Homo sapiens: one gene and its partner. The protein of the gene in region 1 interacts with the protein of each later gene in a pairwise test. Each region holds a gene or a part of one and is shown in the gene's direction. Other genes may lie near its edges. The genes, in order: ZNF124 and AXIN2.

What was found.
Region 2: the proteins of ZNF124 (region 1) and AXIN2 interact in binary tests that used the Homo sapiens proteins (3 or more experiments, as listed by UniProt).

The regions. Positions count from the first base shown.
Region 1 is NC_000001.11:247,158,342-247,162,260, reverse strand, and holds part of ZNF124 (zinc finger protein 124), read left to right. Parts: intron 1-2,447; coding exon 2,448-2,574; intron 2,575-3,194; coding exon 3,195-3,255; intron 3,256-3,919. UniProt on the Homo sapiens protein: May be involved in transcriptional regulation.
Region 2 is NC_000017.11:65,555,049-65,558,967, reverse strand, and holds part of AXIN2 (axin-2), read left to right. Parts: intron 1-231; 5' UTR 232-347; coding exon 348-1,162; intron 1,163-3,919. UniProt on the Homo sapiens protein: Inhibitor of the Wnt signaling pathway. Down-regulates beta-catenin. Probably facilitate the phosphorylation of beta-catenin and APC by GSK3B.

The DNA.
Region 1 (3,919 bases):
CATATGTGTAGATTTGATCTTGTTATTGTGTCGTTAGCTAGTTATTATGCAGACTTGTTTGTATGCTTGCTTTATAGTGTCACTGGTCTATGTACTTACGTGTGTTTTTGTGGTGGCTGTTAATGATCTTTCCATATTTAGCACTACCTTTAGGAACTCTTATAAGGCAGATCTAGTGGGAACAAATTCTCTTAGTAGTTGCTTGTCTGAAAATGATTATGAAGCTTCTTTTGGCTGGATGGGAAATTCATGGTTGGAATTTCTTTTCCTTAAGAATGCTGAATATAAACTCTGATAATGCACAATAAATTTTCTGGACATTAGAGAAAAATTACTGGACTGTAGATTGTGGTAAAGTTCAAATTACTGGAAATAGCAATGGAGTATATCCACTGCCTTGGCCTTCATTTCTGCGTATTTATTTGGTGTGGTAATCACCACTTGAGATTCTCTAATTTTTGTTCTTCTAAAGAATGTGGACTATTATTTACTATTATTATTATAGTAATATGCCATATTATTTGGCTGTTTTATTACCAAGAAAATGGATCTCTTTCCATAAATGGTCTTTTTTCTTGTTATGTATCTTTTGCTTTTTTTTCCCATTTTTTAATCATGTTTTCATTCATTTTTACTGTGCACACTAATTTCTTTTATATTGCATGTATTGCAGATTTTTATTTTACTGTTTTTTGTCTTTTAATTCTCCTAATTTTAATATATTTGAATTTGTCAGTCTCTATTGTTTGCTCCTTTTCTCCTATTCATATGTCAAAAAAAACCTTGTCTGTGACTTCTGCAAGTGGTCTATTTATACTTTTTACTTTTGAATATATGACAAATTGATTATTGTCCAACTAATAGAGGTCAATGCAATTCATTTTTTTCCCAATTAAATACCGGTTAGCTTTGTTCCATGTTTAAAGTGCTTGATACTTCCTTCACTATCCTACAATGCCTCCTCTGTTATTAGTCAGCTTTCCATATCAATTCCAGCTAATTAAAGACTATATGCCTTTCTCTTGGCCTAGTTCTTTATCTCTCTGCTTATACTACACTGCCCTGAATATTATATTTGAAAATCATTGATGTGTATTAGGCAAACCATCACACTGTTATTCAGAAGACTTTGACGGTTGTTAGGCGTTTGTTATTTCTGTAGGTTTTGAAAAGTAGTTTCTGCTGAACTGCTAGAAAGTCTGTTTCAGGCATCTATGAAATTTTACATAAATATCATTTGTAAGAGGTGACATCTAGATGACATTGAGTTTTTTTCTTTGAACGCATGCCTTTTCACTTATTCTATTCTGCTTTGACATTTTTCAGTAGAAATTGTAAAATAATTATTTTTGGATTATTGAATATTGATTATTAGTGTTAATTACCTCTTGATTAAATTTGGGCTTGAGTGAAGCACTTATAAGCTTCTACACATTTTCTCTTTGTGTAACCACGTGGATTGGGCTCAATTTCCCAATTAAAAAGTTGTGACATCATATATGAAATATTATCTACCAGGGAAGCTCATCAGATACTCAGTGCTCAGAGTGTGTTTTTGTTTGTTTATTGAGGCTGATCCCCCTAGGCACCACTGCTACAATAAAACAAAATAATAGACTTTTGGAAGGAAAACAGGGGTTCAGCAAATACCAGATTGTTTAGATAAACTATTTAGCAACAGTGAGCTACTTTTATCACTTAGGTTGTTGGGATGCCTCTTAAAATGTAAGTTCCCTCATACCAGCAAAGGTTGAACTTTGTAGCAGGTATTTCTAAGGGTAAGTAGTCTTGTGACGGCTCATATTAACTCTCTTATGCACACCAGATAGTAAGACTTTGATATGATATGTACTGCAGGTATATGCTATAAAGAAAAATCATAACAGCAAATATTACTCCCTGGACCCACCAACAAGAAGGGTGTTCCTTCTCTGCTGCTGCCTTGCTGAACAGTTCAACTTTAGCATAAGAACTGCTGGCTGAGCGCGGTGGCTCACGCCTGTTATCCCAGCACTTTGGGAGGCCAAGACAGGCAGATCACGAGGTCAAGAGATCGAGGCCATCCTGGCCAACATGGTGAAATCCTGTCTCTACTAAAAATACAAAAATTAGCTGGGCGTGGTGACATGTGCCTGTAGTCCCAGCTACTTGAGAGGCAGAGGCAGGAGAATCACTTGAGCCTGCGAGGCGAAGATTGCAGTGAGCTGAGACGGTGCCACTGCACTCCAGCCTGGCAACAGAGTGAGACTCCGTCTCAAAAAAAAAAAAAAAAAAAAAAAAAGAACTGCTATGTGGGAGAAAGGAAGTGTAGACAGAGTCATAGTTCTAGTGACCAAATAGTAGAATAAATGTTCGCCACAGAATCAGATGAACATCTTATAAATTGACTACAGATTTCCAGTGCTTTCAGTCTCATCCATCCTCTACAAAAATGTGGAATATTTTAGAACTCGGTTGCCTTTGAGGATGTGGCTGTGAACTTCACCCAGGAGGAGTGGGCTTTGTTGGATCCTTCCCAGAAGAATCTCTATAGAGACGTGATGCAGGAAACCTTCAGGAATCTGGCTTCCATAGGTAAGAATCACAATATTTCTTCACTTAGTCAATCAGAAAGTAAGTGTTTCATGGTTTTCAATGTCATTCCATGATTTGGAATGTACAAAGGGAACACTTTGATGAGTGAATGAGGCATGGACCCAGTGTGCAATGACTCTTGTTTCTTAGTCTATTTTTTAATTGTGATAACAGAATACCTGATCCTGGGTAATTTACAAAAATAGTTTTATATTGGTTTATGATTCTAGTGGCTAGAAAGTCCAAGGTTGCATCTGGTAAGGACCTGATGCTACTTCAGCTCAGGGCATGAAGCAGAAGCAAGTGGGCATGTGCAAAGGGATCACAGCAAGAAAATAAGAGCAATTCTTGGGAGCTAAACTTGCTTTTATAACAACCTGCCCTCTGGCAACTAATTCAGTCTTGCAAGAGTAAGAGAAAACATGCATTCCCAAGCAAGGACATTAATCTATTAATAAGGAATCTGTACCCATAACACAAACAATGTTGCCATATTGATGACCAAATTACAGCATTCATTTTGGTGGGTACAAACCATATCCCCAACATAGCACCTAGAGTCTAGTAATTTTTCTATAATTTCAAATAATTTGTAATATATTTCTGGGTCTACATTTTAGGAAACAAAGGGGAAGACCAGAGCATTGAAGATCAGTACAAAAATTCTTCAAGAAATCTAAGGTAATTTGCCCTCACAAGAGGAAGCAGTCCCCCTTGGGGTCAATTGTAGTATATAATCATATGTTTAAAGCAAACAAGGCCAGGCATGGTGGCTCACACCTGTAATCCCAGCACTTTGGGATGCTGAGGTGGGCGGATCACCTGAGGTCAGGAGTTTGAGACCAGCCTGACCAACACGGCAAAAACCCGTCTCTACTAAAAATACAAAATTAGCCCAGTGTGATGGTGCATGCCTGTAATCCCTGCTGTTTGGGAGGCTGAGGCAGGAGAATTGCTTGAACCTGGGAGGCGGAGGTTGCAATGAGCTGAGGTTGTGCCATTGCACTCCAGCCAGGGAAACAAGAGCAAAACACCATCTCGGGGAAAAAAAAAAACCAAGCAAACAAAATAAATTAAGACAACATCAATTTATTCTCAAAGTTTTTACCAAAAATATATACTTCAATGTAACATGGATGTTAAATGTTTGCAAAATAGTTCACTTGAAAACAGTATTGTTTTAGTCTGCTTGCATTGCTATAAAGGAATACCTAGGCTGAGTAATTTATAAGGAAGAGTTTTATTTGGCTAATGGTTCTGCAGGCTTTATCAGAAGCATAAAGCCAGCATCTGCTTCTGATGAGGACCTCAGAGAGCTTCCAGTCATGGCAGAAGGGGAAGGGGA
Region 2 (3,919 bases), on another chromosome or scaffold:
CTCCCTCCCACCCCCAACCCCGAAAAGTGTGCAGGGAGCTCAGATTTCGCTTTTGAAAAGCAGCGCCTGATACTTTAGATGAGCACCTCGCAGATAGCTGGGTTGCTTGATTTGAATTTGAGGAGTTGAAAAGCCTGTTTACTTTCTTGCTTTGATGTTGGGTAGATCTGGTTTTGATTAGATCAATACCCTTTTCTCTCTCCCCACCTCCCCCCTTCCTTTTCTTTCCAGAGAGGAGGTTCAGATGAGCCCCTGCTGACTTGAGAGAGACAGAGAGACCACGCCGATTGCTGAGAGGAACTGGAAGAAGAAAAATTCCCAGACTCAGTGGGAAGAGCTCCCTCACCATGAGTAGCGCTATGTTGGTGACTTGCCTCCCGGACCCCAGCAGCAGCTTCCGTGAGGATGCCCCGCGGCCCCCAGTGCCAGGGGAAGAAGGGGAGACCCCACCGTGTCAGCCAGGGGTGGGCAAGGGCCAGGTCACCAAACCCATGCCTGTCTCTTCCAACACCAGGCGGAACGAAGATGGGTTGGGGGAGCCGGAGGGGCGGGCATCTCCGGATTCCCCTCTGACCCGGTGGACCAAGTCCTTACACTCCTTATTGGGCGATCAAGACGGTGCTTACCTGTTCCGAACTTTCCTGGAGAGGGAGAAATGCGTGGATACCTTAGACTTCTGGTTTGCCTGCAATGGATTCAGGCAGATGAACCTGAAGGATACCAAAACTTTACGAGTAGCCAAAGCGATCTACAAAAGGTACATTGAGAACAACAGCATTGTCTCCAAGCAGCTGAAGCCTGCCACCAAGACCTACATAAGAGATGGCATCAAGAAGCAGCAGATTGATTCCATCATGTTTGACCAGGCGCAGACCGAGATCCAGTCGGTGATGGAGGAAAATGCCTACCAGATGTTTTTGACTTCTGATATATACCTCGAATATGTGAGGAGTGGGGGAGAAAACACAGCTTACATGAGTAATGGGGGACTCGGGAGCCTAAAGGTCGTGTGTGGCTATCTCCCCACCTTGAATGAAGAAGAGGAGTGGACTTGTGCCGACTTCAAGTGCAAACTTTCGCCAACCGTGGTTGGCTTGTCCAGCAAAACTCTGAGGGCCACGGCGAGTGTGAGGTCCACGGAAACTGTTGACAGTGGATACAGGTAAGACTTTGACGGGGGCGGGTGGGCTGATGCTGTGGACTTTGCAGATGTTTTAAGTATGGTGGATGGGTGGATGGGTGTGCTGCAGAGACTGACAGGTCTGTTGAGTTAGGACTGCTGGCCATGAACCCTTTTTGATCTTGCTTTTTGTTGTTGAAACAGGGGGAAAGCGATGCACATACAGTAAATACCTGCAGTCTTCCAGTGCTGACTTCAAACAGTGGCAAGCAGTATTCACTAATGTGGGTTACTTATTATCCCGGGCTAGTGTCTCAGAAGAGGTTGAGAGAGAGAGAGAGGACAGCAGCTTTTGATGCCTCTGAGTCACCAGATCCACTAAGCGCCGGTTTTGGAAGGGGTCACTTCACCACTAATCAGTAGAGGGTGGAATTAATGTGGCTAGGGAGGCAGCTGGGTTGTGGTGGAGGCACAGGAAATAATATGTGCACCCATTGAGGGGTAAGTGGGATTTTTTTTTGAACTTTTCTGTTAAGATAAGAGCCAGCAATTGGCTTAACTGAGCTTGTGGTTCCCTTTGTAGAATTAGATATTTACCCAGCAAGAAAGGCCTCTAACTAGGGAAGGTCCTGTGACTTTCCCAAATGAAGGACCCTTACCTTTAGAGCTTGCTGGCATATTAATCCAGGTTTTAAATGCTCATGAGTCCGAGGGTCAGACTTCAGTTGATTATTTTGTTAGTGCTGATGGAGAAGAGATCTTGGCCCGGGAGTACTGGGGCCCTGGAGTACTTTCTCTTTGAGGCTTCAAAGACAAATAGTTCTTTGCAGAATGGCCAAGTCTTAAGATTCTTGACCTTTGGAGGCAACTTCAGACCTCTTGTTAGAATGAGTTTTTCTGTTTTCTCCCCTCCTCCCGACTTCCAAATATCCGAAAAGAGAATGAGCCTCTTAATTCCGGGGTGTGGTTTTATGACAGGCAGGGGATGGGGCTGCACTTGACTGCTCTCTGAATGATTTATCTTGCTCTCTGTGTGAATTTCTCTGTGTGTTAGGGGCCCAGGATGCGGTCTGATAGCTGCCTCTGGATTTCCCTTTCTCTGTAGGATGTGGTCTCTAGTGCCCAGCAGCAGGAAGAGAGGTGGGCACCAGATGGTTGATCTTGAGCCTCTCAGGGTGGCCAGGTCTGAGCCTAGCGGGCCATGATTTTAGGGGCGGCAGAGAGAGTTGACTGTTGGCGAGGAGAGGAAGGGCTTGTTCTCCAACCACCAGGGGGCGCGCTTGTGGCTTGGGAACCAGTTTTACTCAGACATCTGGTCTACACCTAAGTGGAACCAGGTTGACTTTTGCAAGGAAACACAGGTTCCAGGGAGGTGTTTCAGTGTCTTTATGCTTGTGGAGTCAAGTTGTCTGGGAGGAAGATCCTGGGTCTGGCCTCTGCAGTAGGTCAGTCGCCGGGCACCTGCTACGCCTGCCCGCCCCATTATGAGACCATTTGGGTAAGCCTCTGGCGCTGGCCTCCTTGCCCTCTAGCCTGGCAGCCAGAGCTGAGACTACTTAAGAGCCGTGGTAAAGGCTGCTTCTCCAGGGGCCTCCTGACTGGGGCTTCTGTGTCTCCCACTGCCGGGACCAGAGTGTCACCTTCGTAAATAGCACAGTGTGTGGTTTTGGACGCCCTCCCCAGGCAGGGCTCTGCTGTGAACCCTCCCCTTTGTGGGTGGGCAGTTGCGACTCAGCCTGGGCTTGCCTCATCTGGGATATTACCAGGATGCAACTCATGAAGCTTTTGAGATCCAGAAGGCAGGGACAGAAGCTCCTGTTTTCCAGGGCTGCCTTCTTGGCTGTGAACCGTGGACATCACTGATAAAGAGGTGACAGCTTGTCATTGACCTGAGAGTTTCCATACGAGATTCACGTGTGCCTTCTCCCACTGTTGGGTTGAGATGAAGCATCTTAAAGGACTCTCTGAAGCTCATATGTCTTAACTGGGCATATTTAAAGAGAATTTAAGACATAGCCAGATGATCTCACATCATTTTAACGTGCAAGATATTCGAGTGTGTGCACAGTGTATGGAAAGGTCTGCTGACTCCTTATTCAAAGGCTTGCATTCCAGCCCGGTCCACCACTTACTGCTTGGGTGTTGAAGCCTTTCTGAATGGCATGTGCCCATCTGTAAAATGGGTGGGCACCATTCCTTCTGTCTGTGTCATAGGATTGTTATTAGGACCAAAATAATAAACATGAAAGCCTTTTGTAGAGAGAAACGTTTTGAACCGCCGCAAAGTGTTATAATTAGTATAATTAGTAATGATGATGTAAATAGGACAACCAGGTTGGGATGTCACTTTTAAAGGGTGACTCTTGGCTTAGCCCATTTTCCATTGTAAGGTTTTAGAGTGGCCCCCTGACCCCCATGCCTCAACTTTCTTATTGAACTGAAGTCTGTTTTTCCAGCTAGTTCTTGGAATGTAGAGATCCCATCTAAGGTTTAAGTTCCCCCCTTCCCTCTCCCGCACACTCACTCATTCTGCAGAGTACCTGGCATCTGGGATGGGCTTAATAAGTTAGTAAAATGAATGGAACAGAAACGTCAGTGCTGCTGAGGATGGTCTTTCTTCATCAGCTGCTGAGGAGCGGTCTTGGCAGCCGGATGCCTGGGGCACTGGCCAGGCTTGCAAGCCCTGTGTTTACCTCGGGCACTCAAAGGAGCCTCGTTTTTAACGACTTGTTTGTGTCCTTACTGATTTGGTGTCAGGTTTAATATAAATAGTTGGGGCGGAAGAGCAGGAATTATCCT